Linked DNA regions of Homo sapiens: regions 2, 3, 4 and 5 are each linked to region 1. The links come from fine-mapping of genetic effects on gene expression. A gene starts in region 1. Each other region holds a variant in brackets. All regions are shown on one strand. Distances are from middle to middle. Region 1 holds the start of DERA (deoxyribose-phosphate aldolase). Region 2 overlaps DERA (deoxyribose-phosphate aldolase). Region 3 overlaps LOC102724146 (a long non-coding RNA gene). Region 4 overlaps DERA (deoxyribose-phosphate aldolase). Region 5 overlaps LOC102724146 (a long non-coding RNA gene).

What was found. PIP is the estimated chance that this variant, and not a neighbour inherited with it, causes the effect.
Region 2: its variant is fine-mapped to the expression of DERA in sun-exposed skin (GTEx, PIP above 0.99). The same link has a PIP of 0.9 or more in esophagus mucosa.
Region 3: its variant is fine-mapped to the expression of DERA in breast (GTEx, PIP 0.98).
Region 4: its variant is fine-mapped to the expression of DERA in testis (GTEx, PIP 0.97).
Region 5: its variant is fine-mapped to the expression of DERA in whole blood (TOPMed, PIP above 0.99).

Annotation. Positions count from the first base shown.
Region 1 is chr12:15,907,588-15,914,126 of GRCh38, reverse strand. It overlaps DERA (deoxyribose-phosphate aldolase), which reads right to left and starts at 2,795. Exons shown (of 9, transcript NM_015954.4): 1 at 2,713-2,795. The coding sequence starts at 2,743. RefSeq lists enhancers at 1,617-2,360, 2,361-3,105 and silencers at 2,508-2,857, 2,878-2,937.
Region 2 is chr12:15,954,424-15,960,962 of GRCh38, reverse strand. DERA (deoxyribose-phosphate aldolase) reads right to left here. Exons shown (of 9, transcript NM_015954.4): 2 at 3,930-4,027; 3 at 2,628-2,775; 4 at 1,039-1,134. Among named protein-coding and RNA genes, the nearest start is that of DERA, 46 kb to the right of the region's middle. The variant A/C (reference allele first, on the strand shown) is at 4,224.
Region 3 is chr12:15,864,025-15,870,563 of GRCh38, reverse strand. The region is part of intron 2 of LOC102724146 (a long non-coding RNA gene); the gene reads left to right. Among named protein-coding and RNA genes, the nearest start is that of STRAP, 15 kb to the left of the region's middle. The variant G/A (reference allele first, on the strand shown) is at 3,072.
Region 4 is chr12:15,946,911-15,953,449 of GRCh38, reverse strand. All of the region lies in intron 1 of DERA (deoxyribose-phosphate aldolase), which reads right to left. Among named protein-coding and RNA genes, the nearest start is that of DERA, 39 kb to the right of the region's middle. RefSeq lists a silencer at 4,668-4,868. The variant A/C (reference allele first, on the strand shown) is at 2,093.
Region 5 is chr12:15,828,133-15,834,671 of GRCh38, reverse strand. LOC102724146 (a long non-coding RNA gene) reads left to right here. Exons shown (of 6, transcript XR_007063230.1): 5 at 6,300-6,491. Among named protein-coding and RNA genes, the nearest start is that of EPS8, 42 kb to the right of the region's middle. The variant G/A (reference allele first, on the strand shown) is at 3,702.

The DNA.
Region 1 (6,539 bases):
CTATAGGCATGAGCCACCATGCCCAGCCTCAAGACATTTTTGAGGGCCTTCTGTGTACCAAACACTATTCTAGGTACTTGGGACACATCAGTGAACAAAAGAAAGATCACTACCCACGTGACACCTGCATTTTAGGCAATAGTTAAGTGGCATCTAATAAAATAGAAGAATATCTGTACATTTTAATAGACTATATAGGGCATAATAGTCTAGGTACAAAACTTGATAGTACCTTGGAGATCATTAAGCCATTGGTTCTCAAACTTGGGTATGCTTCAGTACTACCCACAGGATTTGTTAAAACTCAGAATGCTGGGCCCCATCCTCTAATATGAAAGCTAGAGGGTACATTCCCTATTTGGAAAACATCTTTCATACATCCAAATGCCAATGTTTTCCTTAAAGACTTTTTAATCATGAGGGTCAGGTTTAGTCTCAAAGGAACTCAATGTTTTTTTAAGTCCATGAACTAGAAGTACATACACCAAATCATAAATAACAGTGATTGGACTAGTAATAATATTACAACATTTTTGTGCTAACTGTATTTTCTAGAATTTTTACAATAACCATGAATTCCTTTTGTAATAAGAAAAGGGAAGCAAAAATGTTAATTTATTTTAGAAATTAGTTACGATGTTTATTAAAAAGACTTTCAATTAGAAAACTATTTTAAAAATCATCAGTTAATATACTGCATAAATTAATACTGAAAGATTTTTTTCCCTAGTACCTAATTCAAATAACTTATTTTAGCATTTCAGTTTAAACCTGTTTGGATTAAGGATTAATACCCGTGAAGGAAAAAAATCTGATTTTAACAAATAAGATAATAAATACAAAGCTATGATCATTTCGATAGCTGCATAAAAACCACATTTACTATTGTTCTACCTGGCAATTATTTATGTCTATTACTTTTCAACAAATGAATGGAAGTGATTGATTCTAATTACTGCAAATAAATAAATTTAAAAATGGTTCAATTATGTTTTTTGAAAGAAAAATTTAAAATGTCTAAGTTTTGGGAAATTTAGGGCACATCCTTGATGTATGCATAGTCACATGGTCATATTCCTGGGAATACCCAGGTAAGACACCACCCCAAACCTGCCCCATATCCACCACCTTCAAGGATATTCCAATCTAAGAAATAATGCCGTTATTACTAAAGACCACGTTCCAGAGATAGGACTAGAGTTTAAAACATAATCAGCTAGAGGACAGTGACTAAAACAAAATCAACCAGGTTAGTAAATCAACTGTCTTTAAAATGATAGATTTACTCTCTTACCATTCGACAAAAAATCCAGAACACCTCTTGGAAGTGCAGACTGTTTAAGTACCAGTCACTTTTAAGGAGGGCGAAAAGGACCTACCTGTATGTGTTACATATAATTTACAGCCAATTTTCTCAAAATTAGCCCCTAAAACCATAACTCCATATACTAATACTATCTATACTGAAGACTTACTAGGTGTCCACAATATACCAAACTACTTTACATGTATCCTATTTAATCTCCTAACGGCCTTATAAGGTAACTACCACTAAAATAACCATTTTACAGATGAAGAAACTTAAGCGCAAAGTTATTAATTTGTCCGAAGTCACACAGGTAAGAAGTTAAAGATCCTGGATACACAGATATCCAAGCTATAATACTTAAACGAGACGCTTAAACCTTCTCTTGATCATGGTTTTGCTGTTTGAATTATAAATTTTTCACATGTTAAGAAATCTGAAGAAAAATTCTCTTCTGCCTTGGGATCCTGTTGATCTGTGACCTTATCCCCAACCCTGTGCTCTCTGAAACATGTGCTGTGTCCACTCAGGGTTAAATGGATTAAGGGCGGTGCAAGATGTGCTTTGTTAAACAGATGCTTGAAGGCAGCATGCTCGTTAAGAGTCATCACCACTCCCTAATCTTAAGTACCCAGGGACACAAACACTGCGGAAGGCCGCAGGGTCCTCTGCCTAGGAAAACCAGAGACCTTTGTTCACTTGTTTATCAGCTGACCTTCCCTCCACTACTGTCCTATGACCCTGCCAAATCCCCCTCTGCGAGAAACACCCAAGAATGATCAATAAAAAAAAAAAAAAAAGAAATCTGAACTAAGGTTTCTTGCCAGTATTTGAACAATATAAAAAAAGATGAAAACTGGGAAATAATACAGGTACTTTAACAAATCTTTGTAACTCTAAAATCCCATGAATCTGCAGTGTTACATTTTGAGCACAGACGGCTGACAACTTTTCCACGAGCACGGCCACTTCAAGGTTACGGTTAAAATTATCTACGGAAATACTGCATTAAATTACACAAGTATTCTATTAAAAGGAGGAGAAAGAAGGTTTTTATCTGTTTTTACCTGCTTGGGGGTTGTTTGTTTTGGGTTTTGTTTTTTGGGTTGTTGGGTTTTCCAACCAGCGAGCTAGAGTGAACGAAAAGGCAGGAAGATAATAATCTAACCCTTTCCTACTCCTTCCGCATACAAGAGTAAAAGCTTAGGTGCAAAGACAAGCGGCGCGAACGTGCCGGGTTCGGCCTTTACTTGGGGTGAGGGCTGACCAGACGCCACTGCTTCCCGCCCCAGCGAAAACCCCTCGGGGACCCACAGCCAGGGCACTGGGCGGCAGCAGGCCCCGCGCTAGTCCCGGCGGCGCTGAACGCGAGGGAGAGGGGATGGGGAGCCCCGCGGGCCCCTTACCGAGCTCGGTGCCCCGATTGTGCGCGGACATGGCGCGGGCAGCTCCGGAGCTGCCGGCTGGTAGGCGCCCGCCTCTGCGCCGCGCCCGGCCCTTCCTCCTTCCCGCCAGCTGGAGCGCTCGCCCCGCCCCTGCCCGCTCCCGGGGCGGAGTCGCGGGCCCGGGCTACGAGGTCTGTACCCTAGGAATATTGCTCCGCAAGGAAATCTCGCTGCTCCCCTCCCCCGTCTTCTCCACGAGGTACCGAACCGGAGCGCTAAGTAGCTCCCGGAAATAATGCTACCAACACCCTTTAAAAAATACTGAAGTTGCCAATTGCACGTAATAAAAATATTCCTAGAAACTTTTAACTGTAAGATTATATAACAAGAAGGAAGAAGATCCAAGTGCAGAGCTCTGCAACTTAAGGTCTGAAATGTCAGCAGGGATCCCATATCCTTGTTAGGGAAACCAAGGTGCAATCAAGGGCCCCGGGGCACACTGACTTTTCTAATCTACACATCATGAAAAGAAGCAGCTATGTGGCCTGAAGAAGGCAAGGGCTTAGGAGTCAGAAGACCTGGTTTCTTAGCCAAGCTCGGGCAATAATTAAATGTGTGACCCTGGGCAAATTAACTGCTTTTCCGAGCTTCATTTTTCTCATCTGTAAAAGAAGACCTTGACAATTTCTTGGTTCTTCAAAATACTATGATTCTATAAAGGTAAAATGCTTCAGCCTGATTTCTCTGTGACCAAGAGGTTAAAATCGTCGAGTCACTCCACAATCTCAATATAGTTAACTTATCTGTACTCACGTTTAGAGGCACCTCTGCTATGAAAACAGTACAGTTAGTTATGATTTGTCTACCATGAGCCAGTTATTGTGCTAGGTGCTTTCATACATCATATATAGATGTATGATAGCATTTGAGTCTCTGAACAATCCTGCCAATAATGTATTTTATCTCCATTGCTGTAACTTTAGACATCAAAGTTCTGAATAGAAAGGCATCCTGGTATAGGGGAAATACAGTGAGCTCAAAATGAGCTGAACCCATTAATATACCAGCTCTTCCATTTAATAAATGTAACTTGGCAGTTCTGGAAATAATAGTCTGTCTACTTACCTGTAAAGTGGAGATGATCAAAATATGTTCACCTTGCAAAGCTGTTGAATGTATGCAAGGCACCTAGTACATAACATGGCATACAGTAGATACTTAAAAAATGGAAGCTGTTAATGTTATTGTCAAGTTCACACAGTAATTACTGAGCTGTTTTAAATAGGAATAGTAATATTTGTATACTCCTCTACATTGAGCTTTCAGCCTTGTCCACACACAGCCACTGTTGAATGTTTCGGATGTGTGTAGATCTTACTCATACATACTATAGCACTTTTCTTTTTTATATTAACCTTGAAAAAGAGAAAAGCAGGCCCTGAAAGCCTGGAGCTGGCCTGAAACTCACAACTGGACCATGGTTTTCCCTGGTTAAACGTATACAATTTCACAGCACAGCATCAGCCAAGGCCATTGTGACCACAATGAATCAACAAAAACATAATCATAATCATGTCTGATAATAGAAAACCATGAATATTGTTCAAATAGCCCCTATCCTAGCTATTATGACTTCTTTACCAATCAGTTCTAGCTTCACTCCATTCCTATGTTTTAGATAAGAATTAAGATGCACTACTATCACCAGTTCCTACCATCATCCAGTCCAGATCCTTCCTTGAACTTTCCCCAAATCACCTACGACAGGCCCAAATCCTATGTAGTTTCTAACATCCTCTTACTGAGACACCTCACATTAGGTGCCCATGGCAAGCATTCTCCCTTGTTACAATGTCAATAAACACAACTTTGTCCACTTGTAGGTGTGTTACTGGTGGTCTCTGGCTGGAGATCATTCACATCTCTAGAAGATACAAAGGCAATACATGAAATTCTATTTTTAGAAGTAAACACAACTCCAAACCAGATTCCATACCATTCATTACATAAATGTTTGTTTGTTTGTTTTTAAATTGTGATATCCTAAATTAGTTGAAAAATCAGAATTAGGGCAGCCTCTTAAAGCAATGTTTTAGCAATGTATCAGTCAAGAATTTCTCAAGGACTTTTTCTAAAATGGACCTGTTGAATGTATTAATCTCAAATTAATCTCTGCAGTTTAAAAGTATGTTAATTTGGCAACATTAGGAGAGACAGCAGGGATAGTATGCAAAAAATGAGTTTCTTTCACAGAGAAATGTTCCTATATTTCATTTTGTGAAGATTCCTTTTACATTTATTGCCTTATGAAACTTCTGAAGTATCCCTAAGGCAAGTCCCCTCAAAGAAAGAGCTATAGACCACTACATGGGAATCACCCAAGAGCTTTTTCTAAAGCAGTTCTGGGCTTCCTCACAGCCCTACTCAATCAGAGTATCTAGGACCCTGGAATCTGTAATTTTAATATTTCTTCAAACAATGTTTATGCAAACTAAACGTAAAGAACCACCAATGAGAAGCAGAGGAAAATAAACTATGCATGCCAATCTGGAGCCATAGCCCAAACTGACTCTTACAAGAGTAAAATTGCTTTTAAAGTATTACATGTTGTATTTTTTAAGCCATGTAAATTTTGCATGCTATTCCTATTCATTGATGTTTTTCAATGTAAATTTTAAACTGCCAAATAAATTACCTAATTATCCTCCCACCCTCACTCCTCCTTTAATTAAAATTAAAGCTCTAGGAATATGTAATATTTATCTTGAAGCTTCTAAGAACCTACCAGTCCTGGGAGATAGGAGTAAAACAAATTTTAAGGTCCAAAGGGCATAGATCATTTGTGTTTGGTTCATCATATGTAGGATCTAGTACAGTAGTTGGCAATTAGTAGACTATAAATATTTGTTAGATGAATGAGTGTATATTGCTGTCTTTGCTACTTTTCTTATACTGCCTACTGTTTTATCCAGTCAAATTTCATTTGATATAGTCTCTACTCCTATGATTTCTAAGAGCAATTATTCACAAGTTCATTAGGTAAATAACCACTTAGACTACAAACTGTCAGCCAGCATTTCTAGGTCAGATGGAGAAAAGTGTAGGAGCAGGGAGGACTATGAAAAATTGTGAATATTAGAGTCAAAATATTTTAGAACTGGAGGGAGACTAATAGAACATCCAATTCCTAGTTCATGGTAAAATAAAAAAAAAATAAGAATTATACTGAGTGTTTTATGAAGCTAAATTTATTCAATTTAAAGAACACTCCTTCATTCTGAGACTACGTTGTTCACTACCAATTTGAATTTTAAAATGTCGTTTTATAAAGATCGTGGCGTTAGATAATTATTTTTTCTTTTTTAATAGCCTCAGTTGGCTAGAAGCCGACCATTCCATCTCCTCTCCCCCATTTTGAAGTCTATTGGCCACAGAATCCTAAAGCTTGGGAATCACTGATACAATATATAATACTCGCTAATATTAAGTGCTTCCTGTGAATTAAGTCCTTTCCATAAAGTATTTGGTATTTCATATTTATGAGATTTTTCCTGAAAAAAATCTGTGAGAACTCTTTTCTCCCTGTACAGATAAACTGAGGCTAAGAGAGATTTGCCTGTAAGTGCTAGACGATTGCTTAAAACCTGGCAATATATAATCATATAACAATATATAACCTTAGACTACACACTATTCCCTACTATCTCTTGGAAGCTAAACTTATTAGACAAACCATTAAACCTCTCTGAAATTCAGGTTTTCCATATATGCAACGGAGACAATTACCTATCTCATTGGATTACTGGGAGAGATTAAAAAGTGACACACGTGTTAACATTAAAACCTAA
Region 2 (6,539 bases), 47 kb before region 1:
CTCTAGCTTCAACTCCTGTATCTCCCCCTTTGCCCTGTCTTCAGAGCCCTGCCTTTGTAGTCAACAACAGCAAACCTTTTCCAGTTCCCTGAACATGCTTTGTGCCTTCACACGTGCTAGTGCCTCTGTCTAACATGTGGTTCCCTACCTTATTAACACTGTGAACTCCTCCTCATCCTTTAAGATCCAATGCAATTATCTCCACGACGATGCTTTCTCTTACTTTGGTGTCACCAACCTCTGCAGAATATATCATTCCCTGCTCAGAACCGCAACTACACATTTTGCACATATCGTTGTTTTTTTTTTTTTTTTTTTTTTTTTTTGAGACGGAGTCTTGGTCTATCACCCAAGCTGGAGTGCAGGGGCATGATCTCAGCTCACTGCAACCTCTGCCTCCCAGGTTCAAACGATTCTCCAGCCTCAGCCTCCCAGCAGCTGGGATTACAGGCACCTGCCACCATGCCTGGCTAATTTTTGTATTTTTAGTAGAGATGGGGTTTTGCCATGTTGGCCAGGCTGGTCTCGTACTCCTGACCTCAAGTGATCCACCTGCTTCGGCCTCCCAAAGTGCTGGGATTATAGTTGTGAGCCACCGTCCCCAGCCCGCATATCATTATTATTATATTTTACATATATATGTATAACAGAACATGCATACATGTGTGTGTTAGTATGTATATAGTTATATATATAGTTAATATGTATATATACATATACATATATAGTATGTATATGTGTGTGTGTGTGTGTGTATATATATATATACTATATGTCATGCCTTATGACTTTTTTCTTTACCTGACTATTCCTCCTAAACTGAGTTTCTTTAAGGATAGGAATACAGTTCTATATTGTTGGGAATAAATGTCTTCCACTTACTAAGCAATTAGTACATACTAAAATCATGAATAAATACAACTAATTAAATACATAAACTAATTTAAATCATAGTACAAACCTACATATAATACCCCATTGTATGAAGAACTGGAAACATGTTTAAAAAATAACAACAAAAGCCACAACACATTTTACCTGATGCCACAGGGATATTACAGCCTGCAGCCTTGAGTGCTTTTACAGCATCACACACCCGGGCGGGATAAACACAAACGGCGGCTGTAGTAATGCCTATCAAGAAAAAATAGGAATAGCCAACTTTCAATGAAGTTCAACTCATACAACATGCTTTTAATTATTATTTATATCGCAACACTGGCAAAAATCAAATGAGAAAAAAATAATTCCCCCACAATACTGCAATAAATTAAAAGATTTTTATTTTCCACATTCCCTTCTAGTTCTTGACAATATGGATTATTTTCTTATCGTTAAAGTCATAAAAACAAGTTTGATATACTCATCTTTGAGATTAACATAGTACTGTTTTTTAAAAATGTCTAAATAGTAAATTTGGTGATCATTACTAAATGCAAATATTTCATGTAGATAACAAAATCCATATTTACAGAGCATTCACATAGGACATACCTGAAGAAAGGACAGTTTGAAGAAGGACAGATGAAGACAAATATAAGTACAATTTAGAGGGTGGTACCACAAAAATGACATTTAACTAATCCTATTCCCTCTTTTGCAAGAAATAATAAAATCTGAAACGGAAGCCCTGATTTTAAGAAATAAGTTCATAAATTTTAAAAAATTTAGAATTCAAATAGTCACTATAAAACAAAGCAATATCATAAGACCTTACATCAAGTTGTTACCTTTAAGTGCAATAAATAAGGTGATATTTTTATGGCCAACACGAAATAAACATAATAAATACTTTTCAAAAGCCGTAGAGTTGTTTAGGTTTGTATGTTACCTACAAACCTAAACGTGTTTATTTGGGATAAAAGACCTGCATTGGGCCAATTCAACGTCTCCAGTTGCACTCACAGCAGATAGGCACTCGGGGGCCATGAAGCATACTCCATGGGAAGGAGACCTGGCTCCCAAAACCAGCCCAGCAAGTAACAAGACGTGTAGCCTTGGGAATGCCGCTTAGCCTTCCAGGTCTTTGTTTCTTTATTTAGAAAACAAGGGAATCAATTCTTACAGGTGTCCAACATCTCCAAAATGCTAAGGTTCTAAACTTATGGCAACTCTAGAAAAGTCCTTCTTTTCATGTATACTAAGGCAGTGAATATGACTTTTTTTGAAAGATCTAACCTAATATATAAGCAGGCTATATTTCTCATTTGCACTTTATTTTCAAAAGTATTTCATATACTCACAGAAAATACTTTATGTATGAGATGTGATTATTAAGTAATGAGACTGGCTTTTTCACGTATGGCTAGGGAATCAGAAAGAGTATTTCAGTGTCACTAAACAGAAATTTTCCAAAACTGAAGAACTGAAAAGAAATAAAGTCACTCTCTACCAAGCATTTTAATCCATTGATGGAAAGAACTGACCTCAAAAAAAAAAAAAAAAAAAGACTCAGATTCTCTTCCTGCTGTTTTTCAGAGAAGAATCTGTCTATGTATACACAGCAAGAGTTTCTATCATGGATTCTATCACCGCTATCATTAGCAGCTGTATCTTAAGTCGTCTTTGATTTAGTAATCAGTATTGTAAGCACTAAACACCACATAGATCACACACAACAACATTACCTTTATCATGCATATTTAAAGCTTTTAAGAGATCTTCCCGGATTGGGTATTTGGCTTTATAACAGAGCCTTTGAATGTTGGAAGATGTATCATCACCTGAAAGTGTAGTAAGATCTATAAAGGTAACAGCTTTCAGGAGCCAAGCAGCCTGGTTTAAACAAAAGTGAAAACAAAGTAAATTTAATAAATAAACAAACCAACCAACCTCCAACCCAGGTGGTTAGTAGAGAATCATTAGACAAGTATGGGTGTTAATATCTTATGCCTACACTGTTCAATGGAATATCCTGATACATGATATAAACACAGCTCAAGAGCCACTAACAAGGTGAACACTGCCCAAAATAAAAGGGAGGAAGAGTAGGCTTAAACATTTTTTTTCTCCCACAGATATCCCAAATTGAAACCCCTATTAGCCCATGTCTCCCCACTTCTGACTACTCCATCTCAGCCAAAGGGAGAGCCCATCAGAGCCACCCTGACAAAGAAGAACTCCGAAAGAAGGTTTCTACCTTACATTTTACCTCCCGCTCTGGGATCTGGGATGAGATTATCATTTTTAAAAGTTTCCAAGTTTTTTGGTGTTTTTTCAATTTAATCCAATTCCATTTTTAAAACAATATTCATATTTCACAACTCAGTCTGATGAATTTTATTTTACCTTTTCAACCAGAATATTTCTAAGGATGAGCAAAACGTGAACTATCACTCTCAAGGATTCAATCACAGTATTCTGTCTCACTTGTGAAATGAACTCTGAATTCCCTTTAATCCTACACAGCACGTCTTTGGTTGGGATACACTGAAGAAAATGCTGACCGCAAGTACTCTACGAAACATCATTTTTGGAATTTTGAAAAATGATTTATAGAAAGTAATAGTAAGGTAAATATGATGGTCAAGAAAGGTCAACTCTTATACCTAAGGGCCTCAACAGTGGACACATCAAGTTTAGATGTTAGGGCTTTAAAATTAAAACAGAAGACAACCAAAGAAGGCATGTCTAAAAAACTGAATAAATGTGTTGAGAAAATATGCCATTTAATTCACTCATGAATAAAGATGCCTCAAATTCATTTGCGGTTTTGCCACTCAAGAGTGATAAGATTTTAACTTGTTTGGATAAATGTGTTATCTTTCTCCAACCCATCATCATCATATATGAATTATTAAAATAAGTCATGGACAGCTGCAATCTTTTAAGTTTAGATGCATCTTGAGTGAAATTCAATATTGTGGCCTTGAGGGAAGAGACCATGCATTGTAAAATACAGGCACAGAATGCTCAAGAAGAACCCTTACCTGCCACTCCTTTTTCACGGTTCTGCGAGCCTGGATTTGTTCCGCACGCCTCAGAACTGCCGGGTGATTCACTTGTATTTTGGAGATCCAGCTAAGGTCTAAAACAGACAGAAAAACACTTTCTGAAACCTAAAGTTTCATTAAATATAGTCACCTATTTTTACATGGTCCTTGAAAGGATACATTTATCATTTGACATCAACCTTTTTTTAAAGCTTATATTTCTTTTTTGTACAACTATAAATAAACAACCTTATTGATGGAAGACCAGTCAACAAAAGGCATACTTCATGC[A/C]AAATCACTCCATTACTTTCAAAGGCAAAAACCACAATTGCTTCTGTACCAGCCTATACATTTGGAACTGGAAGAACCTGTATTGATTCATCACACAGACATGTCTAACGACGTGGGAAATGTGTGTTACCCATGCCACGTACCTCACCTCTGAGAGCAAAGACTTACTGGTGAGTGTCCAGCCCAGGAGAGCAAATGATTAACAAATCTTAAGTGAACTAATGGTGGGGCTTACAGAATCTGTGCTCACTACCCGCTTACTGGCAAGATTAATACCTACTGCATGCTGACAGGATACAGCCCATTCTTTCTTCAAAGAAAAATTTTTCAAAATGTATTAGAAATAACAACATTGACTGATATAACAGAAGTTAGAAAAAAAGAAAAAACAAATTATTTAAAGTTTCAGGAGCTATCTCTGTTGCTTTTGTTCTGAAATGCTCTCTCCTACCTTGATCTACTCTCTCTTCTCTTCCAGTTAACTGTAATTTCTACCTTCAGACCTAGTCTAAATATTAGCTGTTGTGAAAACACTGTCAGCTCCCCAGACAGAGCTAACATTTGGATAGATCTCTACCACAGAACTTGTAATCAATTCATCAAGGATTCCTGGTGAAACCATTCGTTGTACTTAGTACATTGTCAGCCATGATGTTACTCATCTTTGGGTGTCTAACATCCAACAGTGTTTGGTACACATATTTCAACTTCATCCACCAATATCCTATAAACATAGGTGGCCTCACGGTAAATCGGACATGAACATTATTTACCTTCTATAACTAACCTCACTTCTATATCTCTCCAGCAATTCCATGTTTTTAAAAGAGCCTTAAAAGAGTACTGTGGAAAAAAAGTTATCCATTAGAAAAAATGCACTAATTACAAAACTCTTTATAATGCAATGAGGAAAACTGCTAATCACATACTGTATCATGTAACAATACAAATTGAAGTATTTGCATCTAAACTAATGTTTACAGATGACATTCTTTCTCTCACTCATTTTCATTTCATTCTTCTTAAAAGTATCAGTATTAAAGGTATAGAGATTGCAAGGTGGACTCTGAGTGATTAATAATGATCTTATTTAAATTTCACTGAAGAAGGAAGAGAGTTTGGGTGCTTCTTTTTCTCTCTAATTATTTTGTTAGCTGAAATCATTTAACAAACCAGATTTTTAACATTTCAATCCATCTGCTCCTGCTCCTCAAAGATATTGTATGTTTTCTTGCTTGTTTGCTGAGCCAACTTCACAGAGAAAATGGGAGTCTGGGGTCAGGCCGATGAAATCTGCCTCTGCTTTCCCACTCAAGGGCTGTTTTTGTTCTAGCAGAGCCCGAGAAAATCAGACCAGACACTCTAGACTTCGTCCCAATTTATCTAAGACCTGTAAGAAACACCCCCTACTCAAACGCAGGGGAGCCTCTTTTTTTTTTTTTTCAGACACAGTCTCTCTGTCGCCCAGGCTGGAATGCAGTGGTACGATCTTGGCTCACTGCAACCTCCACCTCCCGGGTTCAAACGAACTCATGCCTCAGCCTCCCAAGGAGCCAGGGCTACAGGCGTGCGCCACCACGCCAGGCTAATTTTTGTATTTTTAATAGAGACAGGGTTTCACCATGTTGGCCAGGCTGGTATCGAACTCCCGACCTCAAGTGATCTACCTGCCTCGCCCTCCTAAAGTGCTGGGATTACAGGCATGAGCCACTGCACCCAGCCCTAAGAGGCTTTTTTTTTTTCTCCTCAGATGATTGATAATGCTGATTTGGTTCATGGTAAAGACTGTTTCAAGCAGATATAGAAAAATGAGTGAAGAGTATGTGAACTCCAAGACTCACTGCCAACTAATTGTTGACCGTGATCAAAAAGAGGTAGGCCTATTACTCAGTGGGGCAAGGCTTTGACAGGCTGTCCTTTATCGGTCACAGGACACCCCTGAAGTCCTTCCCATTCTCTACTCCCAACGCACCACTACCACTACTGTCGCCACTGGAAACACTGGCACCACTGTTGGAGAGGGGTCTCAGGCAAACACAAGCCTCTTCCTTCACCATCTGGCTCCTTCCTCATTCTCAAGCCCCAGCTCCTCCCTCACTGCTCCTCTGCCTCTGTGGTGCAGCCTTCCTAAACTACTGGCAGTTCCCTGACACATTATGCCAGGCTGTCTCTGGATCTGTGCATGCTGCAAGCTCCTTCTACCAAGAATGCCCTCCCTGCTTTGCGAACAGTGAACTGCTGCTCATCCTTTAAGAGTCGATTCAAATGTCACCTTCTCTGGGAGCCTTCCCTGAACCTCACAGGTTGAGACATCCC
Region 3 (6,539 bases), 44 kb after region 1:
AAAAAAATAAAAAAAGAAAAAAGAAAGTGTGGACAGATCTACTGATTCTACAGAAATAAAGGTAATATACTGTGAACAATTGCACACTAATAAATTGAATAACCTAGATAAAATGAACACATTCCTAGAAACGTAAGACCTTCCTAGATTAAACCATGAAGAAATAGAAAATCTGAATAGACCTATAACTAGTAAGGAGGTTGAACCATTAATCAAATACCTTCCAACGACAACAAAAAAGCCCTGGGCCTGCTGACTTCACTGGTGAATTCTACCAAACATTTTATGAAGCACTAATCCCAATTCTTCTCAAAGTTTTCCAAAAAAATTGAAGAGAAGAAAGAATTCCTAACTCGTTCTGTGAGGCCAAAATCATCCTAATACCAAAGTAAGAGACACCAAAAGAAAATAAAACTATAGACCAATATTCCTTGTGGTCACTGATGGAAAAATTCTCAACAAAATACTAGCAAACCAAATCCAGTAGCTTATTAAAGAATTAAGCTCCATTTTAAATGGAATTTATTCCTGGCTTATAAGGATGGTTCAGTATACACACCATGAATAATGTAATACACTACATTAACAGAACAAAGGAAAATTACCACGTGATTATCTCAACTGATGCAAAAAGCATTTGACAAAACTCAAAACACTTTCATGATGAAAAAAAACTCAATAAACTAAGAATAGAAGGAAACTATCTCAATGCAATAAAAACCATATATGGAAAAAACCACAGTAAACATCATACTCAACTAAAATATAGACCAGTACAATAGAATACAGAGCCAGAAGCAAACTCTTGCATCTATAGTCCAATGATTTTTGACAAAGGGACCAAGAGAATTCAATGGGTGAAAGGACAGGCTCCTCAACAAATGAACCTGGGGAAGCTGGATAGCCACATGCTGGATATAACACCAGAGACACAGACAACAAAAGAAAAAAAAAAAAAACAGATAAATTGGGCTTCATGCAAATTTTAGAAATTTACGCATGAAAAAACATTATCAACGGAGTAAAAAGGCAACCCACAGAACAGGAGAAAATACTTGCAAATCATTTATATGATAAAAGATTGCTGTCCTGAATATACAGAGAACTCCTAAAAGAATATATATAGAACTCAACAAAAGAAACCAAACAACCAGATTTAAAAAACAGGCAAAAGTATTGAATAGATGTTTCTCCCAAGAAGATACAAAAATGACCAAGAATATGAGGGCCGAGTGCAGTGGCTCACACCTGTAATCCTAGCACTTTGTGAGGCCAAGGCAGGTGGATCATTTGAGACCAGGAATTCAAGACCAGCCTGGGCAACACAGTGAGAACTCATCTCTAAAAATGTAAAATTATTAGCCGGGCGTGGTGTAGTCCCAGCTACTCAGGCGGCTGAGGCATAAGGATTTTAAGTCCAGGAGTTGGAGGCCATAGTGAGCTCTGATCGTCCCAGTGCACTCCAGCCTGGTGACAGAGTGAGACTCAGTCTCAAAAAAAAAAAAGGAAAAAGAAAGGTGCTCAATGTTACTAATCATTTGGGAAATGCAAATCAAGTCAAAATTACAGTGAGATACCAGCTCATACTCATTTGATGACTACTATCAAAAAAACAAAAAATAACAAGTGTTTAACCCTTCGCCTATTTGTATGTTTAATCATTCATACATTGAAGGACATCTGGGTTGTTTCCAGTTTTTTGTTGTTGTTGTTGTTATGAATGGAACAGCTATGAACATTCAAATACAGGTTTCTGTGTGAACATAAATTTTCATTTCCCCTGATAAATGCCAAGAATGCAATGGCTATGTCATGTGGTACTTGTATGTTTTTTTAATTTTTATTTTTTTATTTTTTTAATTTTTTAATTGTTTATTTGTTCCATCGCCCAGACTGTAGTACAGTGGCCCAATCTTGGCTCACTGCAACCTCCGTTTCCTTGGTTCAAGTGATTCTTGTGTCTCAGCCTCCGGAGCAGCTGGGACTACAGGACCCTGCCACCATGCCTGGCTAATTTTTTGTATTTTTAGTAGAGACAGGATTTCACCATGTTGGTCAGGCTGGTCTTGAACTCCTGACCTCAAGCCATCCCAAAGTGCTGCGATTACAGGTTTGAGCCACCACACCCGGCCAGATGTTTGTTTTTTAAAAGAAACCACCAAACTTTTTCCAGAGTGGTTGCACCATTTTATATTCCCACCAGCAATGTATAAACAATCCACTTTCTCTGCATCCTCACCAGCATTTGGCGATGTCACTATTTTAGCCATTTTGATTGGTATACAGTGATATCTCACTGTGGTTTTTAATTGAATTTCCCTAATGGTTACTCATACTGAACATCTTTTTGTTTGCTTATTTGCCATTTGAATAACCTTTTGAGGGAAATCGCTGTTCATTCCTTTTGCTCTTTTCCTAATTATTTGGTTTTCTACTGTTGAATTTTGAGAGTTTGTCATATATTCTAGATACAAGTCCCTTGTCAGATATGTGATTTGCAAATATTTTCTCCTAGGATGTAGCTTGTCTTCTCTTCCTCTTAGCAGTGTTTCACAGAGAAAAAAGAAATTGATGAAATGCCATTTGTCCATTTTCCCTGCTATGAATTGTGCTTTTGGTGTCAGGTCTACGAACTCTACCTTACCCTGTATCATGTTTTTTTCCCTGACAGTGTTATGGTTTTTTGTTTTACATCTAAGGCCATGATTCATTTTGAGTTAACATATGTATAATGTGTGAGGTTTGTTCCATGTTCATTTTTTGCCTGTGGATGTCCAATTGCTGCAGCATCGTTTATTGAAAAAAACAATCCTCCTTTCATTAAATTGCTATTGTATCTTTAAAAAAAAGAATCAATTGGGGCTGGGCGCAATGGCTCATGCCTGTAATCCCAGCACTTTGGGAGGCCAGGGCGGGTGGATCACGAAGTCAGGAGATCGAGACCATCCTGGCTAACATGGTGAAACCCCGTCTCTACTAAAAATACAAAAAATTAGCCAGGCGTGGTGGCAGGCGCCTGTAGTCCCAGTTACTTGGGAGGCTGAGGCAGGAGAATCACTTGAACCAGGGAG[G/A]CAGAGGTTGCAGTGAGCCAGGATTGTGCCACTGCACTCCAGCCTGGGAGACAGAGCGAGACTCCATCTAAAAATTAAAATTAAAATTAAAAAAAATCAATTGGGCATATTTGTGTGGGTCTGTTTCTAAACTCTCTGTCTGGTTCCACTGATGTAAGTGTTTATCTCTCCACCAATATCACACTGTTTTGATTATTGTAGCTCTCTAGTATGTCATAATATCGGGTAGTGTGTACTCCTCCCGTTTATTCTTCTATAACATTTTGTAGATCAGTATTCTCAACAGGTATTATTCACATATTCAAAATAACTCCTTAATAATAGTAATAAAAACAAAACAAATATTTTGAAAATTATTAGTAGAGGAAGGACAAATCACTTTCATTATCTAAGCTACAAAAATAATATTATATAGTTGCATTTTAAATACTTGATCGTAACAATTATGTCTCTTTTCAAATTTTTTCCTGATTAATTTCTCACTGATAACAAAGACACCATTGGCATTTTATTTTTCATTGGCATATTAGGTGTATTCTGTGGGATTCCAAATACTAAGCAAAACTATGTAATAGCATTAATAATCCCTGTTGATAATAACTTAAAACGTTAAACATAGGCACGTAACAAAACTCAGGTTTACCCGCTCACAGCTCAAAAGCCAAACTTGAGAGATAAGAGTTGTTGGGAGAAAAAGCAGGTTTATTCAGGAGCCGACAACCTGAGGAGATGGTGGACTCATGTCACAAAGATCATCTCAAGTTTCTCAGGCTAGTTAGAGAGTTTTTATGGGAAGCAGGGATATGGACTATGCACAAGAGTTTACTATGTGAGGGGTAGTATGTCTGGTCTTGATGACTATCTTGAGCAGTGGGCCAGCTGGTGGTCTAGCTGGTGTCTGGTTGATTGCAACAAGAATATAGATGAACTACACACAGATGAAATACTTCCTGGGGTGAAACATTCCACAACCTTGATTTCATGCTTAGTTTTTCAAGGCCCGTTCCTGGAGTTCTTTAAGCAATGCATGTAAGTTAAGCGTTATTAAAAGCTCAGCATAGAAAGAAGTGAGGGGGAAGAAAAACAAAGAATAATAATTGTTTTTCTAAATGGGGTGGTAGTTTTAGTTACAGGCATTCATCTTCAAAAGAAATGAAACCAATTGGAAACCAATATAGGTTTAAGATTAAAAAATTAAAATTTTATTGAACAGTTTTTAAATTCTGAGTTTAAGACCTTTAAATTAAAAATGACGTATGCATTTTATTCCCCATGATTATTTGATTTTCTCAGTCCCTTAGGAATGGCTTAATTCATTTCTTTTTTTATTTTGGAGTATTACTTTCTCTCCTCTCCTCAAAAGCAGTGTTACTGCTTCCCAGATAAGAAAGAATACAATATCCACCAAACAATTACAACAGAAGTACAGAATCCATCTGGAGTATAATAACAAGACTAAAACAATATAGCAACTATCACTGTAAAAAGGACTTTGGGTGAAGGTCATCAATAGATGCCTAATCTAGAGGGATGATAAGTATGATAAGAGTAAATAATTACTATACAGGGGAGAAAATATACAACATCTTGACCAGGTGTTGGCAGAAAATTTTCCATGGATCCCCACTATTTCTGCAAATCTCATGAGCAGAAACATGCTGCATTTGGTTCTGGATTCCCTTTTAAATAATGTTTTTATTGCAAACAGCTTTAGAAGATAGACAGCTTCTCCCTCCATAGGAAAACAAAATAATGTTTATTGTTCATTATAAAACATTTGAGTTCCCTAAGCTCAAGGTCTTTCTTCTGTAATGCAACCCACTGCATATGTGGCTACTCATCAGAACCTATTTGTATTATCCCTGTGGAACTTGGGGACATTGAGAATAGATGTAAATATGCTGCTTCTCATGCTTCCAGCAGCACCATGAATAATAATATCCTTTGTGTCTGACTCAAGAAGTCAGACCAGCATCTTTCACCAGCATCAGTGAAATGTGGCAGGTTAGGTTTGTTAGCTTGCAAGTAGGGTAAAATCTCAGACCTTTCACAGTGCTTGACAACAGGATCAAAATTGACATCACCCATGAGGGATAGACTTTGCATGCTTCCAAATACTTTGAGAAGGATACAATATCACTTACAAAGTATCTGACCAGGGCTGCATAACTAAAATCTGATTACAAGGAATCATCAGGCAAACCAAAACTGAAAAACAGTTTCTTTCTTTCTTTTTTTTTTTTTTGAGACAGGGTCTTGCTTTGTTGCCCAGGCTGAAGTGTAGTGGTGCAATCACGGCTTACTACAACCTCTGTCTCCTGGGCTCGAGCGATCCTCCCATCTCAGCCTCCCAAGTAGCTGGAACTACAGATGTGCACCACCATGCCTGGCTAATTTTTGTATTTTTTGTAGAGACGGGGATTTTCACCATGTTGCCTAGGCTGGTCTTGAATTCCTGGCTCAAGCAATCTGTCCACTTTGGCCTCCCAAAGTGCTGTGATTACAGGCGTGAGCCACTGCGTCTGGCCTGAAAAACATTTTCTAAACTGACCAGTATTCTTCAAAAATGGCAATATCATGAAAGATTCTTTTAAAGTCTAGAAAACTGTTTCTGAATGAAGAAGAATACAAAGGCATGGCAATTAAATGAAATATATGATCCTAGACTAGATCCTGTGCTGGAGGGAAAAATGCTATACAGGACATTATTGGGACATTGACAAAATTAGAATATGGATTTTAGATTAAAGTATTGTATTAGTATTATGTTTCCTGAATTTGATAACTAGATTATAATCATGAGGAGAATGTTTTTGTACTTAAGAAAAATACATAGTATAAGGAGATATAAAAGCATGATGCATGAAGCCTAATCCAAAATGGTTCAGGAAAAATGAATTATGTTTTTATATGTGTATATATACATCTATACAAAGATAGGTGATAAATAATAAAGCAAATGTGAAAAATTTTAAAAATTGGAAAATGAATATGTGAATGTTCTTTGTTCTATTCTTGCAACTTTCCTATAATTTCAAATTATAGCAAAATAAGTTTTTTTAATACATGTGGAATCTATAGGATTGTATAAAACAGTCCTTTACTTCTTCCCTACTGTTGCTTATCAGTTCATTCAGATGCCGTTAAGTAAGCATCAGGAACTCTGTCCTCTTTTGTTTCCCTTTTTAGAGATGAGGTCTCGCTACATTGCCCATGTTTGCCCCAAACTCCTGGACTCAAATGAGCCTCTTGCCTCAGCCTCCCAAGTAGCTGTGGTTTCCCTTTTTATCCTTCCCTCCCCACACAACTCACTGTTTTAAAACCACATTGCCCATCTCTTATGGTCCACCTTCCTCTTTTTAATCTTTGGCACAAGTAGCTAACGCTTTCATTTTCGACAGTTTCTCCTCCATCGAGCTGCACCAAACTCCTAGTACTTTGCAAACTCTATCATTGTTGACTCAGAGC
Region 4 (6,539 bases), 39 kb before region 1:
GGTTCAAGTCGTAGTGGAGATGGAGGTCATTTTCCCTGCAACTTTACTTTCTAGACTTTCCATCATTTTCATTTGTGTTTCTGCAGAAGTTCCTGTATTTTTCACAGTATTCCTAAAGCATGTAACACCAAATGATAACCCTACAAAAGGAGGCGCTTTTTCTATTTTGATTTTAACTTTGTTCCTCATACACAAAAATAAAAACTTACCACACTGGCTGGATAAAAAGTCAAGTTCAGAGGAAGGGTAGGTCACAGTAGGCTTATCCAGTTGGCTAAAACAACCCTAATGGATAAGTGGAGATTTCTGATTCACCGTAAAGCATTGTTTCTCAGTCTAGAGACATTTTTGGTCACCACAGATGGGGTAGGGGGATTCTAGAGGAGAAGGTGCCACTTGTATCTAGTGGGTAGAGGCCAAGGATACTGCTCAGTATCCTACAAGGCACCCACAACTTAGAATTATGTGGTCCCAAACTTCAACAGTGCCAAAGCTGAGAAACCCTGCCCAAAAAACTGGGCAGGATGCAGGAAAAATAAACCGGAAGCACTGCAAGTTTGTGGGGCTGTCAGAAGCAAAAGCAGGTTGGCTAAATGTGACTGAATGTGGCTTGTTTGACTGACTATGGCTTACTTGTAAAGTGCTGTAAGCACCAGGCTGAGTGTAGACATGCGCTGTCCAATCAGGAGCCACACACTTGTGCCTACCTGAGCCCTTGAAATGTGGATAGTCCAAATCGAAATGTGCTTTAAGTGTAAAATACATAGATTTCAAAGATTCAGTACAAAAAGAAGGGTGTAAAATATCTAATTACGTTTTAACATTGATTTCACAATGAAATTATAATATTTGGGGTACACTTGGCTAAGTAAAATGCTATTAAAATATTTTCACCTGTTCCTTTTTATTTTTTTTATAATGTGTACACTTGAAAATTTAAAATGACTCCATGTCTCACATTATGTTTCTATTGGCTCTAGGCTCTAGTCTAGACTTTATGATACAGGTGACCAGAAGTCAGAGAAGATCTCCAAACAGGGCTGTAACAGAATTAAAGGAGTATTTTAAAAAAGTAATCAGTACACAGAATATGTCCCATGGAAATACGTACATAAGTTTGCAAATGCAAACATGAAAACGTATGTGTGGCAGCACTGTTGGAAATGACACCAAGATCCATGTCCAGTTCAATAATATATAGCAAATCCAAAAAACAGAATACAATTCAGCCATTAAAAAGAATGAAGTACAGGCCAGGTGCAGTGGCTCACGCCTGTAATCCCAGCACTTTGGGAGGCCGAGGCAGGCGGATCACGAGGTCAGGAGTTCGAGACCAGCCTGGTCAATATGGTGAAACCCTGTCTCCACTAAAAGCACAAAAATTAGCTGGGCATGGTGGTGCAAGCCTGTAGTCTCAGTAGTCAGGGGACTGAGGCAGAAGAATCGCTTGAACCTGGGAGGCGGAGGTTGCAGTGAGCTGAGATTGCGCCACTGTACTCTAGCCTGGGCAACAGAGCAAGACTCCGTCTCAAAAAAAAGAAAAAAAAAAAGAACGAGGTACATCAGTAAGTACTGTTGTAGAAAACTGATTATGATACATTACTCAGTAAAAATAAGAAATATGCACAGCAGTGTGCTTTTTAAAATAAAACTGTTAATAAAAACAAAAAGAACACAAAACATGTATCTGTTGGTGTATGTGCAAAGAAAATAAACTATATGCCAAATTGATAGAAGTGTTTTTCTTCAGAGGTAAGATTATATTCCTACTTTCTCACGTTATATATTCCCCTAATATTTAAACATTCTTACAAAGAGCATGCATTATCTTATTGAGCAGGAAATATAACACATAATAATACTTGACTCTTGAATTAAGAGGAACTGCCAGGCAGCAGTGTGAAGGACAGGTAGAATGAAAGGCAGACTACAGTAGGTAAACCAGTAAGGCAGCTGTCTGTGGTCCAGGCACCAGCATTATACAACACCTACCTGGGGCATTTTCACAGCTCTAAACCCTTCGTGATCAATCTTTGGCCACTGAGCTATTCCAGAAAGCCAGCCTGATACAGCTACACAATGTCAGGCAGAA[A/C]TGATGATGTCAGAATGCCCTGTTTCTGTTCCCATAGAAAAGATCACCAAAATCTTCACCACAGGCCCCCAGGTAGAAACTGATAATTATATTGCTCCTACATGATGCCAACATTACAAAGGGATGAGATGGGCCCACACTCTACTTAGAGCCTGCTCTGGCCCACCCATAGCTGTGCTCCTACCCATGGGCAGGGGTCTGTGGGGCCAAGGGCACAGACTGTCCCTGGGCCAACATTCCCCTCTAGTCCATGCTCAAGGTACACAGGACCCAGAATTCCTAGATCAAATGGCTCCAGCCTTGTTTACAGAATCTGCAGGGATCTCTACCCAAAGTCAAGACTTACACAAGATACAAGACAGACAAGGGACAGAAAACCTCCTGGAGAGTTTGATAAATGCAAGTCTGTCTATGAATACCATTCATTCATTCAACTAATATCAAAGGGCTATCCAAAATGGTGCCAGACACCACTGGAGGCTCTAGAGAGTGAGCAGTGCTGAAAAAACAAAATCCTTATTCTCATAGGCCTTTCCTAATAAGAGATAAACACATAAATATCTATTAACTATATTATACATCTGAGCTACAATGAAAAGTTATATAGGGTAAGAAAATGGAGAATGTAGGATGGGCATGAGCCAGGAAAATCTGATAATAAAACATTTGAGCAGGACCCCACGTGAAATAAGCAATGAGGCCATCATATAGGGAAACAGTGTTCTAGGCAGAAATGTCAGAGGCATTTGAACCAGAGCAATTCCATCTTGCACAGGGGCTGGGTAAAATGAGGCTGAAACTTACTGGGCTGCATTCCCAGATGGTTAAGGCATTCTAAGTCACAGGATGAGACTGGAGGTCAACACAAAATACAGGTCATAAAGACCTTGCTGATAAAACAGGTTGCAGTAAAGAAGCCAGCTAAAACCCACCAAAACCAAAATGGCTATGAGAGTGACCTCTGGTCCTCCTCACTGCCACACTCCCACAAGTGCCATGACAGTTTACAAATGCCATGGCAACATCAGGAAGTTACCCTATATGGTCTAAAAAGGGGAGGCACAAATAATCCACCCTTTGTTTAGCATATAATCAGGAAATAACCATTAAAAATAGGCAACCAGAAGCCCTCAGGGCTGCTCTGTCTATGGAGCAACCATTCTTTTATTCCCTTACTTTTTTAATAAACTTGCTTTCACTTTACTCTGGACTCGCCCTAAATTCTTTCTTGTGCAAGATCCAAGAACCCTCTCTTGGGGTCTGTATCAGGACCCCTTTCTGGTAACAGAAAGAGGAGAAGGCAAGAGTGAACAGTCATATCTAAGGCAAAGCAGGGACACAGTGTAATCAGGGGAAAGTAGGCAAGGCCAGGTACGGGAAATGGAAGAGAGGGTGACAAGGCCCAGATCATATAGTAACATATTTTCCAAAATGAGGGTAATAACTCACAGATAAGTCATGAAATCAGTTTTGTCAGTGGCAACCGGCATTTTTAAAAAAGAAGAAACAGGTAGGTGGTTCCAAGATGGTAGAATAGGAACAGCTCCAGTCTACAGCTCCCAGCATGAGCAACGCAGAAGACGGGTGATTTCTGCATTTCCAACTGAGGTACCGGGTTCATCTCACTGGGGCTTGTCGGACAGTGGGTGCAGGACAGTGGGTGCAGCCCACTGAGCGTGAGCCGAAGCAGGGCGAGGCATCACCTCACCCAGGAAGCACAAGGGGTCAGGGAATTCCCCTCCCTAGCCAAGGGAAGCTGTGACAGATGGCACCTGGAAAATCGGGTCACTCCCACCCTAACACTGTGCTTTTCGAATCGTCTTAGCAAACGGCACACCAGGAGATTATATCCCACGCCCGGCTCAGAGGGTCCCACGCCCACGGAGCCTTGCTCATTGCTAGCACAGCAGTCTGAGATCAAACTACAAGGTGGCAGTGAGGCTGGGGGAGGGGTGCCTGCCATTGCTGAGGCCTGAATAGGTAAACAGAGCTGCTGGGAAGCTCGAACTGGGTGTAGCCCACCACCGCTCCAGGAGGCCTGCCTGCCTCTGTAGACTCCACTTCCAGGGGCAGGGCATAGCCAAACAAAAGGCAGCAGAAACCTCTGCAGACTTAAACGTCCCTATCTGACAGCTTTGAAGAGAGTAGTGGTTCTCCCAGCATGGAGTTTGAGATCTGAGAATGGACAGACTGCCTCCTCAAGTGGGTCTCTGACCCCTGAGTAGCCTAACTGGGAGGCACCCCCCAGTAGGAGCAGACTGACACCCCACACGGCCGGTTACCCCTCTGAGACGAAGCTCCCAGAGGAACGATCAGACAGCAACATTTGCTGTTCAGCAATATTCGCCGTTCTGCAGCCTCTGCTGCTGACACCAAGGCAAACAGGGTCTGGAGTGGACCTCCAGCAAACTCCAACAGACCTGCAGCTGAGGGTCCTGACTGTTAGAAGGAAAACTAACAAACAGAAAGGACATCCACACCAAAACCCCATCTGTACGTCACCATCATCAAAGACCAAAGGTAGATGAAACCACAAAGATGGGGGAAAAACAGAGCAGAAAAGCTGAAAATTCTAAAAATCAGAGTGCCTCTCCCCGTCCAAAGGAACGCAGCTTCTCGCCAGCAACAGAACAAAGCTGGACAGAGAATGACTTTGACGAGTTGAGAGAAGATAGCTTCAGATGATCAAACTACTCCGAGCTAAAAGAGGAAGTTCGACCAGTCGCAAAGAAGATAAAAACCTTCAAAAAAAAGATTAGACGAATTGCTAACTAGAATAACCAGTGTAGAGAAGTCCTTAAATGACCTGATGGAGCTGAAAACCATGGCACGAGAGCTACATGATGAATACACAAGCTTCAGTAGCTGATTCGATCAACTGGAAGAAAGGGTATCAATGATTCAAGATCAAATGTATGAAATGAAGTGAGAAGTTTAGAGAAAAAAGAGTAAAAAGAAACAAACAAAGCCTCCAAGAAATATGGGACTATGTGAAAAGACCAAATCTACACCTGATTGGTGTACCTGAAAGTGATGGGGAGAATGGAACCAAGTTGGAAAACACTCTGCAGGATATTATCCAGGAGAACTTCCCCAACCTAGCAAGGCAGGCCAACATTCAAATTCAGGAAATACAGAGAACGCCACAAAGATACTCCTCGAGAAGAGCAACTCCAAGACACCTAACTGTCAGATTCACCAAAGTTGAAATGAAGGAAAAAATGTTAAAGGCAGCCAGAGAGAAAGGTTGGGTTACCCATAAAGGGAAGCCCATCAGACAAACAGTTGATCTCTCAGCAGAAACTCTACAAGCCTGAAGAGAATGGGGGCCAATATTCAACATTCTTAAAGAAAAGAATTTTCAACCCAGAATTTCATAACCAGCCAAACTAAGCTTCCAGTGAAGGAGAAATAAAATTCTTGACAAGCAAATGCTGAGAGATTTTCTCACCACCAGGCCTGCCCTAAAAGAGCTCCTGAAGGAAGCACTAAATGTGGAAAGGAACAACCGGTACCAGCCACTGAAAAAACATGCCAAATTGTAAAGACCGTCAATGCTAGGAAGAAACTGCATCAACTAACAAGCAAAATAACCAGCTAACATCATAATGACGGGATCAAATTCACACAGAACAATATTAACCTTAAATGTAAATGGGCTAAATGGTCCAATTAAAAGACACAGACTGGCAAATTGGATAAAGAGTCAAGACCCATCAATGTGCTGTATTCAGGAGACCCATCTCACATGCAGAGACACACATAGGATGAAAATAAAGGGATGGAGGAAGATCTACCAAGCAAATGGAAAACAATAAAAAGGCAGGGGTTGCAATCCTATTCGCTGACAAAACAGACCTTAAACCAACAAATATGAAAAGAGACAAAGAAGGCCATTAGATAATGGTAAAGAGATCAATTCAACAAGAAGAGCTAACTACCCTAAATATATATGCACCCAACACAGGAGCACCCAGATTCATAAAGCAAGTCCTTAGAGACCTACAAAGAGACTCAGACTCCCACACAATAATCATGGGAGACTTTAACACCCCATTGTCAACATTAGACAGATCAACGAGACAGAAAGTTAACAAGGATATCCAGGAATTGAACTAATCTCTGCACCAAGCAGACCTAATAGACATCTACAGAACTCTCCACCCTAAATCAACAGACTATACATTCCTCTCAGCACCATATCACACTTATTCCAAAATTGACCACATAGTTGGAAGTAAAGCACTCCAGAAATTATAACAAACTGTCTCTCAAACCACAGTGCAATCAAACTAGAAATCAGGATTAAGAAACTCACTCAAAACTGCTCAACTACATGGAAACTGAACAACCTGCTCCTGAATAACTACTGGGTACATAATGAAATGAAGGCAGAAATAAAGATGTTCTTTGAAACCAATGAGAACAAAGTTATAACATACCAGAA
Region 5 (6,539 bases), 79 kb after region 1:
GTTGCCAAGAGATTTTGTATCACTGTTTATATGAAAGTGCATAGCACACAGATGGGTACACAATTATTAGTTCAAATATTAGTTCAAGTCTAAACTGTTTAATTTTTTATTGTGTAAGTGGAAAAACATTCTGTTGAAAGGTATAACTAATCAGAGGTTATTTTATTAATAAATCAATTATAGACACAAGTGAGAGGATTACCCCTGAAATCTTAATGGAACTCAGAGGACTTTGAATCAATGTCTTCCTTAGACCAAAGGGGAAAATTGAGTTGCTTATTTTTCCAAGGCTTCTCAATCTTGATTCTGGTCTGGGTACACTGAAAAATTAATAATGAAAGATTTTTTAAAATTTCCTTATTATTGGTATTTATTATCTTCATAAAATGGCTATCTTTAGAATTAAACAAATGAATTAAAAACATGATGTGTAATGCAATTAAAATGCTGATGCTCTTTCCCAAATATTTTTTGGTAACTGTTTAATATATGATTTGACAAATATTCAGAAATTATTAGAAACATTTCTTAATGGAAATCCCGTTAATTTGATTTAATTAAATTTGAAAAGCGAACACCTAGCACAAACTTTTAACCACCAATAAATAGGATGCTATGTGATTTTACTTTTCTAGGTGCTGGGGATATAGCTGTCAGGAACTATAGACAGTCTGGGATTTTACTCTACTTTCAAGCTAATAGGCTAGCCTGTTACTGTATCATGGACACTGGGAAAAGGTATTAGACTCTTGAATCGGAGATAAAGGACTCTATTACTTATGATGTAACAGGCAGCATGATCTTCACATTTTCTTGTATCAATTTTCCACGACCCCCAAATTTCATGGGGATGACATAGGGGGGCCTGTACAGATGCCTACACACTCATTAGAGAGAGGAACACTGTGCTTAGAGAACTTTGAGTGCAGGGTAACAAGTCTGTTCTTTGTCTAGGAGAAGATACTACCTTATCCCTCCAAGGCTGTTGCTTGCTACAAACATAATCCTGAAGAAAGGCCCAGGTGAAGACCAGTGAGAGCCGTGAATTCTTGGTATATCCAGCAATACTGGACAGGGACTCTTAGGGCCTGTTAGCACGTTGCCTTTCCTAACAAAAGCCTTAGTTTCTTGCACTTAAAGAGCTTACATTTTGAAATTAGAAGGATTCTTCCTGATTAAAGGATTTCATCCTGGGCTGTTTTACTCCTTCTCAACTATGGCAGCGTGACCTCGAAGCTTGCATTGGCCTTTTCCCCAATTTTAGTTTTATACTCACTGTTTCTCCATCTTCCATTGCTATTTACATCTTCCTTGTTAAGTCTCATGCATTAGTCAGATTTTGCCTACATCCCAGGAGCTATATTGCCGTCACAAAGGCTGGACTGAGTTTCTCAAGACATTCCCAGGCAATTTCCTTAAATCCTGACCATCCTTTCTGCATAGTCAGTTACTCTTGCCCAAAGCAATTGCATAGAGCAAGTGCCCCATGTAGACCTGAAGACTCAGGCCAGTCACAGTTTTGTAGGCCATGATACAACCTGGGTCACCCTGAGCTAGGCTTCAAGATTCTGGGCATCTGTGTCTGCTGTGTCCAGCTAGATGTTACATGTGTGTGGCAGAAGAGGACTGTCTTCTTCATCTATTGTTGTAAAACAAAATGTGGAGTTTAATTGAAATCAGAACAGGGATACATTAAACAAACACAAAGTAGTTTTCTGATTATCAATTTTTGGACTCAAAGCATCTTCAAAACATTGGGGATCCAGCTTATCCCTGAGAGACATCATCAAGCATTACTAAAAGTTTTCACTCTTTGAACTATTCATTCACATTTTGTTGCAGAAAACAGGACAAAGTTCCAGACATATCCTTCCTTTCTTCTTTCTAAAATACACTCACAAACAGGGACTTTTCATAGTTCAAAAGAAAAACAAATAGCTTTCTTTCTTGACTAGTTGGCCTGTTACTCTCACCCTGGAATCTCATCTCTCAATAAGAGGGTCCAGGGCACCAAATTCAAGCAGAAATTCCAAGGACATCACTTTACTTGTCTTTCTATGAAGTTAAGTATGCGTTAGTCTTTCTATGAGGGAGACAATCTTCTGGGATTATTAACACCAGTCAATAGTCCCAGGAGGGTGGGGCAGGGAGTGGAAAGGAGGGTGAATGCAATAGTTAAGGTGTAAGGGAAAAGAATTTCTTGCTATCATCAGGTCTAGTTCTTTAAAGCATGATCGTGCATTGAAATTTTGCTATGAGTGGTGACCAATATTAGAAAGAAAAAGGTTCGTTTGTCTTACAGTTGCTTGACTCTGAAGATTCTGAGCTGCCCAAGCCTATGTCCGTGAAGGATTGTAAAGAGCCCTCAATTCACCTGTGCTCTCCCAAGAGAGAGCTAGCATGTTATGGGGTGGTGGCAACCCACCATTTTTAGCACCAACTGCTGAAAGATAGAAAATAAAAGAATTGAGGATTCTTAGAAGAGAGAAGACTTGAAGGTGACCATGTAAGGCTTATTCTATAGCCTCAAGTAAGATGATATAATATAGAAATTTTTTTAAAAAAATTTGCACCGTTCTCTGGATTCCAGCTGTGTTCATTCTGCAAAGCAGTGTGTCTAAATGTTTTTCCAGATATATTGGGCATGATAGCCAGTTTACCCAGTATGTCATAGTCCTGGTTATGATGAACATAGTTAAGAAGTAGAAGAGACGGAGAAAGATTGGAAGAAAATGGAAATGTGAGAGATTGTGGCTGTGCAGCAACAGTTAATTTATATGCATGGCTGTGTATATGAATGAGAATGTATATGATTCATGGTTTAAAGATGGTAGTGTAATACATGTACCTGTATGTATGTATGATGGAACTAACTAGCCCATTGTATATTAGCTCCAAGCTACTATTGTGGTTTTAAAAAGCTGAAACAGTCATTTCCTTGCCAGCTTCATTATGTCACATATAAATATATGTTCTGTGTGGGAAAGAAAAATATTGTATAGGCAAAGGAATTTCTATGAGAAAGATACAGAGTCTTTGAAAGAGACTTAAAATCTATGACTAAATGAGAGAAATAAATGACATTTCTACTACAACGCCCTTGTCAGGTTATATTAGAGAAAATTTATGTCACTGACAAGCCAAAGAAGGAGGCATTTGTATGCTACTGACAGTTGGTACAATATGTGTGTAGAAATGAACTTAAGTGTGGGAAACAAAAGAAACAAAAAACCTGGAAGAGAGCTGACTAGAAAGAGAACAAATAGGAAAAAGTGAAATACTTAGCTATATGAAACAATTTTTAAATAGTATTGTGTTAGATTCTCAAGGACGGATATGTGCTGACACAGTGTCTGGGATTTCAGACCAAGTACTCAGGTTCACATTGGATTAAACTTATCACCCCAGACTTGAGCCAAGAGCTCACCTTCGTCATGACCACTCAGCTATTAGCATCATGGAGTATAGCAGTGTAAATCGATCATACAGAAGTCCTTCTGGTTTTAGAATAAAATGGCAAAGTTGGAGAGAGCCCCCATGAAGATAATGCTCTAGTCAGACCTGCAAATATTGGCTGAATAGATGGTTTGGACAGAAAGTTTCAAGCAAAGAATCTGACTAAGTACTATTATGGGTTAACTAAATTGAGGAAATCTAAAAATTTCTCATAAAGATGCCCAGTTTCTTAAGAAATTGCCCTT[G/A]TTTTTGGACAATGAGCCACATCTTGTATTCATTCGAGGCCTCCATGTTGCTCCACTGGATGAAGCTGACTGCCCTGGCAATATGGCTGTGACTACACAGCTTGCAATGAAGTAGGCTTTGGACCACTGGTAGGAGAACTCCCTCCTAGAAACCAGAGAAATTCAAGAGGGGTTAGAGAACTATGAGTTATATTTGGCACCTACCAAAAAGTCATGCTGAAAACGTGGGATTCAGAGGCCAAGGAATGAGGGGGATTGAGAGTCCACACCGTCCAGTACTGGGGATTATTTTGCTAACATGTACTATACACAAGCAGGAATTTAACAAATACTTGGTTGATGAGCTCATTATGTATTTTTTATCCTCATGAATTGTGGAAGCTAAAACTGGATTTGGTGTATTAATGTCATTATCATTTTTGTATTACAACACTGAGCAAACAAGTAAGTAGTTTTTGTTGGTAAGACATCTTTTTTTAAAAAATGACAAGGATAAAAAGAAATATTAGAAATGACTCTGTCACTAAGGAGTTATACCTTGGGAGACAAGACATACTGGCAAAGAAATAATAATGCAAGTCATATTAGATCAGTTCCAAACACATTTGTTCCCCCACTCCTTCCGGAGACTTGAAAGGCAAAGCCTTACTCTTTTGAACTAGTTTCTCTTTTCTTTTATCCCTCTTCTATCGTCTCTCTACAATCCTCAATCTTCAGTGTTGAGTTGGAAAACTTAGATCATTTATAAGTTCTCATGATAATTTGGTTTGAGAAACACAGTGTAGGCAGCAATTGTGGGGGAGGAACAGTCCCAGGGGAGTGGTAGTTGCTGGGCCTTTTACAGAAAGAGCAGGACTCTGATAACTAGATATAAATGCGATGGGTATTTCAGGAAGGAGGAAGAGCCTGAACAGATCATGTCTCAGGAATGAATGAGACCTGTTTTGCTGCAGTGAGTAGTGAACTCTGGAAAAGAAAAACTGTGGCAGAGAGATGGGGCAGTGGGCAGGTGGTTAAAGGTCTCTAATAGGGCCTTATTTAATCCCTAAGCAGTGAAAAGTCAATGCATGCTTCTACATAAGAATTTAATTTATACCAAACAGGTTTTAAGAATAATTCTGGATTGATGTATAGAAGATGTGAGGAAGCAAGAAACAGACTGCAAAATGGTACTAACAAGAACTAGAAAGAAATGTAATAATCATCTTAGTCAACTTACTCAATTTCTGGTGTCTGGTGTGTATGTGTGTTTGTGTGTGTGTGCACACGTGTGTGTGTGTGTGTGTGTGTGTATTGGGGTGGAGAGCAAGGAAATTTAGCAGAGAGGTTGCCTAAGGTCATAAGCTAATTAACAGCAGAAATAGACTAGACCTGACTCACAGTTTAGGACAAGATCCCCTATATCAGGGGTCCCCAAGCCCTAGGCCACAGATTGGTACCGGTCTGTGGTCTGGTAGGAACTGGGCCACACAGCAGGAGGTGAGCAGTGAGTGAGTGAGTGAAGCTTCATTTGTTTTTACAGCTGCTCCCCATACCTCCCATTACCACCTGAGCTCCACCTCCTGTCAGATGAGCCCTAGCATTAGATTCCCATTGGAGTGCGAATTCTATTGTGAATTCTGCATGGGAGGGATCTAGGATCTAGGATGCAAGCTTCTTATGAGAATCGAATGCCTGATGATCTGTCACTGTCTCCCATCACCCCCAAATGGGACTGTCTAGTTGCAGGAAAACAAGTCCAGGGCTCCAACTGATTGTGCCTTATGGTGAGTTGTATAATTATGTCATTATATATTACAATGTATTAATAATATAAATAAAGCACACAATAAATGTAATGTGCTTAAATCATTGCAAAACTATCCCCCACCCCCTGGGTCTGTAAAAAAAATTGTCTTCAATGAAACCCATCCCTGGTGCCAAAAAGGTTGGAAACCACTGCCCTATATCATTGTTAGGAATCTATGGCAACATCCAGGAGCTAACAAATGAAGGCAGAAGTGGGGCCTGCCATTTTATCCAGATTGTAAAGCCATTTGAGAGGAAGTAGAACATAAGAATCAATTGGCCAGGCATGATGGCTTACGCCTGTAATCCCAGCACTTTGGGAGGCTGAAATGGGTAGGTGGCTTGAGCTCAGGAGTTCAAGACCAGCCCGGGCAACATGGAGAAACCCTGTCTCTACTAAAAAATCCAAAAAATTTAGGTGGGTGTGGTGGCTGGTGCCTGTGGTCCCAGCTACTCGGGAGGCTGAGGTGGGAGGATTGCTTGAATCCAGGAGGTCAAGGCTACAGTGAGCCAAGATGGCACCACTGCACTCCAGCCTGGGTGATAGAGCAAGACCCTGTCTCAAAAAAACAAACAAACAAAAAAAGAATCAATGAAGATATGATTAGTAATTGAATTGTGTATTCGTTTCCTATTGCTGCTCTCCTAAATTACCACAAACTAGATGGGTTAGAGCAGCATAAGTTTATTATCTTACCATCCTGAAAGGTCAGAGGCCTGAAATTGGTTCCACTGGGCTAAAATCAAGGTTTCAATGGGGCTGCCTTCCTGCCGGGGGCTGTAGGAGATCTGTTTTCTTGCCTTTTCCAGGTTCTAGAGGTTGCCTGCATTCCTTGACTCCTGAATCTCTATCACCTTCAGAGCCAGATATTTCCTGCTGAGTCTTTCTGAGGCTGCATCACCCTGACCCTGACTCTTCCATCTCCATCCTTCATGCTTAAAGGATCCTGGTGATTACATTGGACCCTCCCGTACAATCTAGGATACATTTTTAACCTTAAGGTCAGTTTATTAGCAACCATAATACCCCCTTGGATATAACATAGCATA